Homo sapiens: one gene and its partners. The protein of the gene in region 2 interacts with the protein of the main gene of each other region in a biochemical or structural test. Each region holds a gene or a part of one and is shown on either strand. Other genes may lie near its edges.

The links.
Region 1: the proteins of SNAP25 (region 2) and SYT3 form a complex in vitro, tested with the Homo sapiens proteins (one study listed by BioGRID).
Region 3: the proteins of SNAP25 (region 2) and TRIM9 form a complex in vitro, tested with the Homo sapiens proteins (one study listed by BioGRID).

Annotation. Positions count from the first base shown.
Region 1 is NC_000019.10:50,633,362-50,637,017, forward strand, and holds part of SYT3 (synaptotagmin-3), read right to left. Parts: intron 1-3,656. UniProt on the Homo sapiens protein: Ca(2+) sensor involved in Ca(2+)-dependent exocytosis of secretory vesicles through Ca(2+) and phospholipid binding to the C2 domain.
Region 2 is NC_000020.11:10,302,271-10,305,926, forward strand, and holds part of SNAP25 (synaptosomal-associated protein 25), read left to right. Parts: intron 1-3,656.
Region 3 is NC_000014.9:50,993,951-50,997,606, forward strand, and holds part of TRIM9 (E3 ubiquitin-protein ligase TRIM9), read right to left. Parts: exon of another isoform or gene 2,114-3,656; intron 1-2,113. UniProt on the Homo sapiens protein: E3 ubiquitin-protein ligase which ubiquitinates itself in cooperation with an E2 enzyme UBE2D2/UBC4 and serves as a targeting signal for proteasomal degradation.

The DNA of each region.
Region 1 (3,656 bases), on a different chromosome or scaffold from region 2:
AATAAATGACAGTTCTGAGATTTGAATCCAGCAGTCTCTCTCCAGATTTTATTCTCTTAATCACTAGACTTTGCTGCCTCTCTATAATAGAACACAACATGTGAGGTAGCACCAAGGTCCTCCAAAATGCTCAGAGATGGTCAAGGAAGCATGGACCCTGCACGACACAGTTAGGCAGGGCAGGGTTTAAATCACGCTTGCTGTGTGGCCTTGGGAACATATCTTGACCACTCTGAACCTTACATTTCCCATTTTCCAAGTAGGAAAAATCAGTTCTTCCCTCTTACAGTAGTTTGAAGGAATGCAGAAGGTAAATCACATGTGGAAGATAATAACAAACATATCTTGAGGGGTGATTACATACCAAATAGCTCAGTACTTTATAGAGATCAGGTTATTTAAGCCTGCCAGGCACTACATGAGGTTGGCAACATATTTATCCCTGTTTTCCACAAAAGAAAACTGAGGTCTGTATACCCATAGTTACCTGCTCAAAGTCCATAGCTGGTAGGTGGTAGAGTCAGGATTTAAGTCTGGGAAGCCTGGCTTCAGAGCCCATGGTCTTTACTATGATGCTATCACACCTCAACGCTTCCCAATAAATGGTAGTTCAAATGTGAATTTTTATTAGAATAATAAATCCTATTGCTGCCACTATGTGCGTCCAACACCATCAACAAGATAGCTAACACATTCTGAATGCCACATATGTGCTGATATGCCTTGCAGAGAAACCCAAGTACAGAATTGTTCTTACAATCAAAGGTTTTAGGCTTCTTCAGTAATTGGTACCAGGAGTGGGGTTTTTCAGAAATGACCTTCAAGGAATGGGAATTTGTTTTGAAATGGACTTCTGGGTGTTGACAAAGTGAAAGACAGGGAAAATCCCTACTCCTGACAGACAGTGGGTTATGGTGGGGAAGCAGGTAGCTAGGCCATTGCCGGCAAGGACAGCTGAGTGGAATGGCTGTGTCCAGTTATATTAGGGGACACACAGCAGGAAGGGGTTGCCTTCTGGTCCTGTACTGCTTAGTGAAGCTACAGTGGTGTGTGACATTAATCCTTATGACATTATATAACTTTGGAATGACTTATCCCATTTTACAGATGAGAAAACAGGCTCTGAGAGAGAGGAAGTGGCCCTGCAGGGACATATACCAGGCACTGGCAGAAGAACTCTGGGTTTCCTTCCCCCCTCCCTCTTGGGGTGCTTTTTTTTTTTTTTTTTTTTTTTTTTTTTGAGGCAGAGTCTTGCTCTATCATCCAGGCTGGAGTGCAGTGGCATGATCTCGGTTCACTGAAGCCTCCACCTCCCAGGTTCAAGCACTTCCTGTGCCTGAGCCTCCTGAGTAGCTGGAACAACAAGTGGGCACCAGCATGCCTGGCTAATTTTTGTATTTTTGGAATAGACGGAGTTTTGTTATGTTGGCCAGGCTGGTCTTGAACTCCTGGCCTCAGATCCATCCACCTCGGCTTCCCAAAGTACTGGGATTACAGGCATGCACCACCATGCCTGGCCAGAGTGCTCCTTCTCTTTTTTTTTGAGACAGAGTCTCGCTGTGTCACCCAGGCTGGAGTGCAGTGATGTGATCTCTGCGGAGTGCAGTGGTGTGATCTTGGCTCACTGCAAGCTCCACCTCCTGGGTTGATGCCGTTCTCCTGCCTCAGCCTCCCAAGTAGCTGGGACTACAGGCGCCTGCCACCATGCCCAGCTAATTTTTTGTTTTTGTATTTTTAGTAGAGATAGGGTTTTACCATGGATGGTCTTGATCTCCTGACCTTGTGATCCGCCCACCTCAGCCTCCCAAAGTGCTGGGATTACAGGTGTGAGCCACCACACCTGGCCCAGAGTGCTCCTTTTTAAGTGACCAACACTCACTGAGCATTCTGGGTGGCCTGTTAGAAACCAGAGGCAAGGACTTTATGAGCCTCCTGAACACAGGTTGAGTTGAGAAAACAGGGTCATTGTGGAGAAAAATTAAACAGATGCTTTCCCCTACCGCCAGCCTGATTCAGACCCTGTCCAACTCAAAACATGAATCCCACAAACCCTGACAGATTCCCCATTCCTGTCTGCACAGACTGGGGAGTTATTTGGGCGTGGAGAGGTGGTGTAGTTGCGCAGTAGAAGATTCACCTTGCCCAGAGAAAGGTTTGGCCCTTGATCAGCTCCCGGGAGGGAACCTCTAAGCCCATGGAATGTCCTGCCTGATTAGAGTGTCTTTGTTTACCTGGGGCCTTGGATCATGTGGCATAGTCTATGTTAACACTGTGATATATGCTGGAGGCCTCCAGCTCAGCCTCTGGAGGAGCTGGAGACTAAAGTCAGCCACACCAGCAATCAGTCACGTATATGAGGCCGACCCCCAATAAAAACCCTGCCCACCAAGGCTCAGGTGAGCTTTCCTGGTTCGTAATAGACTGTGCATGCTGTCACATGTCGTTGCTGGGAAAATTAAGCACTGTCCATGTGACTCCACTGGGAGAGGATGACTGGAAGCTCACACCTGGTCTGTCCTGGACTCTGCCCTGGGTGCCTCTTCCCTTTGCTGACTTCAGTCTGTATCCTTTCACTGTCATAAACCATAACCATGAGTATAACAGTTTCCAGCCAGGCGTGGTGGCTCATGCCTGTAATCCCAGCACTTTGGGAGGCTGGGGCGGGTGGATCACTTGAGGTCAGGAGTTCGAGACCAGCCTGGCGAACAGGATGAAACCCTGTCTCTACTGAAAATACAAAAAATTAACTGGGCGTGGTGGCAGACGCCTGTAATCCTAGCTACTCTGGAGGCTGAGGCAGGAGAATCACTTGAACCTGGGAGGTGGAGGATGCAGTGAGCCGAGATCCCACCATTAATTACACTCCAGCCTGGGCAACAAGAGTGAAACTCCATCTCAAAAACAAACAGACAGACAAACAAAAACAGTTTCCTGAGTTCTGTGAGTCAATGATTCTAGCAAATCATTGAACCTGAGGGTGGTCATGGGCACCTCCAGACTACAGTGCTGTACTAGACTATGCAGGATTCAGTTCTGCCTCTGCTACCATTGAGCCTCTGGGCAAGTGACTGCTGCTCTCTCGGCCTTATCCCTCATGACTGTCACCTGGACATCCTGCACATGAGGTGCCAGACCCTGCCCTGGTGCTCAGCAAGTGTGACTGTGGTTGTAATCACTCAGCACATGCTTCCTCTGGTCACCGTTTCCTCATCTGGACAATGGCACTCATAATGTTTCCTCATTCCCAGAACCCTGCTGCTTTCTAGCTGTGTGACCTTGGACAGGTCACTTCACCCTTCTCAGCCTCAGTTTCCTCTGTTGAAAATGGGGATTATATGTTCCACAAAGGGTCACTGTGAGTAATCATTGAGATGTGCAGAGGACCTCGCATGCTGCCTGGACCACAGTTGGTGCTCAGTAAGTGAATCCCAGCATTGTTCTAAGTTCTTCGTAGGTGTTATATCATTTAAGTCTTTCATCTGCTCTATGAAGCATCCCTTTTATTATCCCCATTTTCCAGATGAGGAGACTGAGTCCCAGAAGAAGAGTCACTTACCTACAGCCATGCAGTTATTAATAAAGTGAGGGAGATGGGACTTGAACCCAAACAAGTCAGTCTGACTCAAGAGCCTGACATTTGCACAAGATGCAGAGAG
Region 2 (3,656 bases):
GTAGATGACAGGCACACGTTGGAATACAGTGAGGCTGATTCTTTAGCAGTCCTCACATTCTTCTATCAGTGAGAAAACACAGCATTTGAGAGCTAAGACTTTGAGTTCTAACAGGGTTTTGCCATTCACCAGCTCTGTGACCTGATTGCCTCACCTGAAGGATAGTAAGAGAACTGTTCAAACCTAGGATCAGAACAGGCTGGAAGTATGAACTGGGTTCTAAAAGTCACCTGGCATGGTCTGAAGTTGAAGAGATTCCCGGAGCGTTCAGAAGATGGGCTGAACAGCTCCTTCTAAACTTTTACTGGCTCTTTGGTGGTCATCCTGGCCTTCTCACAAGGACAAACATGTAACATATGTTGGGCACTCCAGCAAATTTAGAATTTTCTAAATAGAAATATAAAAATTGGAATGGGACAGCCATCATAAATAAAGTCCTACAGCATATAAGTAGGGTGATCATAGGGGCATTCTCCAAATACCAGGAAGACATCTACAAGGAGATTCCAGACTTTTTTTTTTTTTTAAAAGAAGCTAATTCTTTTATATAATAAAGGGGCAGTACTTTCTGTGTCAAATATTGCATGGGGTGGAATTTTCATATGCTTCAGAAGTAAGTTAGGTGGAAATCACAGATGCTCATTGAACATAAGTCTGTTTCAGCTCCTCCCAGATCCTTTAAGGATATACAGAGTAACCTCATGCTCTACTTCAAATATCCCCAGGTGAAGGCCCCTCAGTGCATTCTTGTACAGGAGATCCTAGAATGTTTGCGCTCAGGAATGCCATCATTTTAAAATGAATTATTTTTCTCATTTGAGCTTTTCAGAGCATTTAGTCTGGCAACATAATAATTCAATCTACAGGAACATTTCACATTGCTCTGATCCTGTAACTTTCCTTTGCACTGAAGTGTCATTATTTCTGATACCATTTGTAGCTGGAAAGGGAGGGCTTAAGAACCAAGTAAAATTGGTGAGATTATCCATTTTCCAATTGAGAAACCTGAGGTCAAAAATGTGAGTCTGTAGTTCAAAACAATCAAAATCAATGCCCTATCTTACTATGTAAATACTGATTTTAAAAGACAAGTGTCAATTATCCAAACAGATGACAGAGAACCATTGCCAGGTATTCAAAGTTATGATTAATCTGGAAATATGTTTGTTTTAACTTTGCAAATTTCTATTTGAACATGGATAATTCTAATGTCCTGAGAATTCACGATATGAACTGAATACAGAAGACTCAGCTCAATAAAAATTGGGAAGTACAGCACCACAATAGGTACAAAGCTGGTAATCATTGAGTGATACTGGTTGAGAGAAAAACAGTTTGGTTTCCCCACACTGCCTGGCAGCCTCCTCCTCTTCTTCCCAGGCTGTAGAAGGATAGACAGCATTACCAGTCAGGGAAGGACAAAAGAAAAGCCTCCATAGAATCGTTGTCTTCACCTCTGGTTGCTGATGCATTTTTCTCAGTGGTGATGGGAATCATTCATTTTCTGGAATTTAAAGATTTATGCTGGTAGCAGCCCTAGGTTTCATGCTGCATATACAGCAAACATAACCCAAGCAGTAAAGAGATCAACCAAGAGATTAAAGCCAGCCAGTTACAAAATCATAGTAAATGTGCATCTGTTAAAGAAAAGACAGTTATTAAACTCATAGAAATGAATCTTCAGAAATGCAACTTAAAAACTATTAAGCATCCCAGAAGCAAGCCAAGTTCTCATACGGTAACAATAATTGCAAGATAAACTAATGAGCCCTTCGTTTTGCAAAACATTATTCCAAGCACATTATGTGTATAAACTCATTTGATCTCAGCAAATTGAATAGTAAGTGATGAATAGTGTGGACTCTGACTCCAGGTTGCTAGCATTCAGACTCTGGTTTCTCCATTTATTAGTACTAAGACTTCAGACAAATTCCCCAGATCGTTTCTGACTGCTTTTCTCATTTGGAAAAGTGAGCTAATAATAGTACACACTTTATAGTTGATATTGTTAATCTTGATGTTGTCAAAGTTTAATGAGTGGAACAAAGTACAGTTGACCCTTGAACAACATGGAGATTTAGGGTGTCAACCCCCATGCAGCTGAAAATTTTTTGACTCCCCCAAAATTTAACTACTAGTAGCCTACTGTTGACTGGAAGCCTTAATGACATAAAAAGTCCATTAACATCTATGTTTTATGTATTATTTACTGTATTCGTATGATAAAGTAAGCTGGAGAAAAGAAAATGTTATTAAGAAAATCATAAGGAAGATAAAATACATTTATAATACTATGCTGTATTTATTGATACCATCAGTTTATATCATTTGTTTACAAGATGAATCATCAGTCTGAAATCTTCAGTACACATTAAGCAATTCAACTTTTTCTTGAAATGTCGTGACTTTTTTTTGCTTTTTGGGAGCACTGCTAGCATCACTGGTGGCACTTTGTATGGGTGCATGATGTTATTCAAGGTTTACAGTATTGCACTAAACATGATTTTTTTTAAATGTGAAACTGCAAGAGATCACTTTTTACTGCACTATGCAATTTACTGGAGAGATGGTGAGGATGATTAGTATCACAGAGCATTTTAAACGGATGCTCACAACACTTGAGTTCACCACAATAATAGGAGGTGGCTATGAAATTATTAGAGTAGTACAGTATGGACTACAGTTAATTTTATACAATTATGATTTAATACTTCACCTTTACATTTCTCTCAACTGCAAATAGGCCCATGTATGGTCTATATTTGTTTAAGTCTCATCAATTTTAACTTTTCATAGTAGATTTATATGTATTTTATGATAGTAAATAATAGACTAGACTAGTATCTACATATATTTTATCCATTCATGACATGCCTAATTTTTTCTAAATTTTCTCAATATTTCTAAGTAACACATTCATCTGCAAGTTTGTCTTAATTGTTGCAAATCTCCAAAGCATTTTCCAGTGTATTTATTGAAAAAAAATCCTGGCCAGGTACAATGGCACATGCCTGTAATCTCAGCATTTTGGGAGGCTGAGGAGGGAGGACTGCTTGAGCCCAGGAGTTTGAGACCAGCCTGGGCAACATAGTGAGATCTCATCTATACAAAAAATAGAAAAATTAGCCAGGCATGGTGGCATGCACCTGTGGTCTTAGCTATTTAGGAGGCTGAGATGGGAGGCTCAGTTGAGCCCAGGCAGTCAAGGGTGCAATGAGCTATGATCACACCGCTGTTCCCCAGCCTGGGCATCAGAGCAAGACCCTGTCTCAAAAAAAAGGAAGAAAGAAATTCACACAAAAGTGGATCCACACCATTCAAACCCATGATGTCCAAGGGTCCACTGTACATGCTCATGCTCATTAGCAATATTTTTTATCATCCAGGTTGGAGAAGAGAAAGCTGAGCCCCCAAGATGTAATTTGTTCAAAGGGACACTGCTAATAAATTAGCCATGGTTTCAATCCTACAGTATAAGAAGTGTAATTCAACTTGGTCCAACAGATGTGAATGCCTACCACAGAAGTCATTGAGTGTCTTTCTAGGATAGAAAGATAAATCATATATAAGCCTACGCTCTCTGGTAGGGAAAATTATTAAAAATGAAAATTAAAAAAGCAATGATTCTGAAAAAATATATTCGTTCATTAAAAAAA
Region 3 (3,656 bases), on a different chromosome or scaffold from region 2:
GGCCATCTAAAAATGTCCACATCTGAATCCCCAGAACCTGTGAATATGTTATTATCCATGGCAAAAGGGACACTGCAGAGGTGATTACATTAAGGATCTTGAGATGGGGGGATTATACTGGATTATCCAGGTGGGCTCAAGGTAATCACAAGGATCCTTATCAAAGGCAGGTAGGGGCTACATGGTGGCTCATGCCTGTCATCCCAGTACTTTGGGAGGCCAAGGGAGGAGGATCACTTGAGGCCAGGAGTTTGAGACAAACCTGGGCAACACAGCAAGACCACATCTCTACAAAAAATTTAAAAAATTAGCCAGACATGGTGGCACATGCCTGTAGTCCTAACTACTCAGGAGGCTGAGGTGGGAGGATTCCTTGAGCCCAGGTGTAGGAGGCTGCAGTGAGCTATGATTGTGCCACTGCACTGCAGCCTGGGTGACAGAGTGTGACCTTGTCTCAAAAAAAAGGAAGGTAGAAAGGTCAGAAAGAGATTGGAAGATGCTACATGTCTGGCTTTGTAGCCACAAAGTCTATCTAAATAGACTAAATAGATAGACTTTGTCCTACAAAGTCAGATGTCTAGCCCCTACCTAAATAGACTTTGTAGGCAGAATCTACTTAGATAGGAAGAGGGAAACTAGAGAAAAATAAACAGAAAATGTCCTATCCTGTTCTCAGCCCTGTATGATTTTTTAAAACAGGAGTACAGCTTGTCTCACACATAGCATAAACCTTAGAACTCTGTGTATTAAGATGGCCTTGCTGTGTAATGTTTTCAACAGATACTCTTTTGCAGATGGTTTCAAAGACTGGCACAGCCATGATGGCTATTAGATGAATTAATTTAAAGATACCCATGACCAAGTTTTGGGGCTTGGGGGCCTTATTTGAAAATTTCATTAAAATTCTTAATTGCTTACAGTTATATTTCATCTTAAGTCAGTGTAATTTGGTTTAGATGTGCAACTGGCGTTTTTTCCATGGGTGTCTTTGATACATCTCCAGGAACTTTGCTTTCAGAGAACTATCCACACTTGGACTCATATAATAATGCATTCTCCTTTCCTTTTCTCTGTCTCTTTTTTTTAAGATGGGGTCTCACTATGTTGCCCAGGCAGGATTCAAACTCCTGGGCTCACAGGATCCTCCCGTCTCAACCTCCCAAGTATCTGGGATTACAGGCATGAGCTACGGCACCTGACTCCTTTCCTTTTCTCTTAATAGCATGTTCTTTATAATTTCCATTGAATTTAATTAATTTTTATTGCTTTCCTAATTCTCCTATAAAAATTTTATCTTCCTGCTAATCCCTTTTCCCTGTTTTTCAGTGTTTATCACAATGTGTAAAAATGGAACTATTTATATGTTTATTTCTCTAAGGCTTGTTTCCTTTTCTAGCTTGTAAACTCCAGGACAGTAGGGATAACGTCTGTTCAACACTCTATACCCACAGCCTAGCACACAGTGGTCACTTATCAAGCACTGCCCAATAAATAGACAGATAAATTTGCTTTCGAAGAAAAAACCAATCAAAATTTATAGTAATGTAGACATTTGATCTCCCCTGCATAACGTTACCTTTAGATCAGCAAAAGGTTTTGTGAAAGCTCACAGAGTACAAAAGATGAGCAATTTAAACCTCAGACTAAATGCATGTGATTACAAGTTAGACTTGTTACCGCATATGAAATTTTACCTTTCTGTGATACAGAATTTTTGTTTTGAAGTTTGAAAAGGGATTAACTCTTGCTAAGAAGAAGGTGAAAGATTTTGTTACACTAGAAAGCCAGAACGCACCACCCCACCACCCCCAATACCAGCAAAGAAAAAAAAAATCTCTAAAGCAAACCTTTCTGGAAACTGTAGGAAATAAGATTAATAAAGCATAAGTGCAGTGAATGTACCAAAACTCTGTTAATAGCATTTTTCTCACTGATTTCTAAAAAACAAACAAAAAAGAGATAATTATTTGATCCTATAGGCTTTGTCTATTGTTACAGATCGATCATATCTTTTTTTTTAAAATAAGCTATTCACTATATTTTTTCTTGCTTTCTAAATCTTGTCTCACTGAATGTATTAGAATGAGGGAGAAACAAATAGAACAAACCAAAGTTATGGAGAAAGTATGTGTGTGAACTTTATTTCATCATGAGAAAATTACTTCTGTGCAGTAACAGAGAATACTGATATCTATATGATGATAGGCTTTTCTTTGTATTCAGATACATACCTTATATTTGTACACAATATATAAAATTCATGGAGGAAATTAATTTCTACAGTACAGTTTCTTTGTTGGAAGAGAACTTGTTCCGTTTGTTTCATCTAGAAAATGACCCCCAGTTCTGTGACTGTGGTACCAAGGATCGCAGTTCCAATCCTGTAATTTATTAAATTAGACACCATAATCTTATGAACATTAAAATAAACTGAGGCGCTACATCCTCCTGCAGGATGAAACGAGAGACATAAGTGCTCAGGCTGTTATGCTAATAACTGATTTTTACCAGAATAGTATGATTCCCATGATGTATTATGAATAGAAATAGTTTTCCCGCAGATCTGATAACACATATTAGCAACATTGCTACAAATTTCTCTCTGCTCTGCAGGCATGCACTTCACTCTTCAATCAAACCACCTTGTACACACATGGGAAATGAGGCCATCACCAGCAAGGGCCTTCTGCGTTGCATCTAGGAAAGACTCTTGGAGGGCTTTAGCAGTTAGTATGGTATTTTGAGAAAAGAGGCAACTGCTCTCAAACTGATAGGTCATCCCTGAGAGAAGGTGCTAAAATGATAATTCTGGGGGAAGCTGTAGCTACCACATCACTGTACTCCAAATGGGAACAGGTCATGTGGGCATTTTCCCTCAGCATATCCTTCTCTTGGAATAGCATCACTTAGACTGACAACTGCTCCCCAAAGCACTGTTTTCACGGCTAGGGGCCTTTCATCCTTGCTGTAGGATTCAAAATTGTGCTTGTTTTTAACCATGTGAAGCATTTTAGGGTGACTGGCACATGTTGAGGTTTGTGGGAAGTGGGAAAAAAAACACCACCATAGTTCTTTTAGCTAACATCTTGAACTTGAACAAAATCAACATAATTAGTTCTGCAGAGGGAAGTTATGGAGAATCCCGGTGAGGTGGGGGGGTGATTTCTTTGATTAAAATGACACCCCAAAGTGTCAGAATGCTTTGGCACCAGCCACAAATACCTCCTTGTAGGTTTAATTTCATGTGTCTTGCTTACTCTTAAAATGAAAATGTTAAAAGCCTCAGAGGTTATATCTGGCCATCAAATTCAAGCCTCTCATCTGAGACACATTACTTGTCTTTGATGACCAAAATATTTAAAGTATAGCTAAGAAGCAAAAATTCTCTAGAGATGAACCTTGTATGGTGGCTCTCGGTAGCCTAGCCAAGACTGAAGGGACTGGCAAAGATGAAAATGGCGGGTAATGCGAAGTTGCTGGTCTCTTCCTGTTTGGTGCCCACAGGAAGTCTCAATCCTGGTGCTGACGGCCTCCGCTTTGGGTATGAAACGGAGGCAGTCTAAGTGGGTAAGCCAGGAGCAGCCAACAGGCCCTCTCTAAACAGCTCTAGCACCCCACCACCCATTTGAAACACATTCAGTCATACAAATCCACGA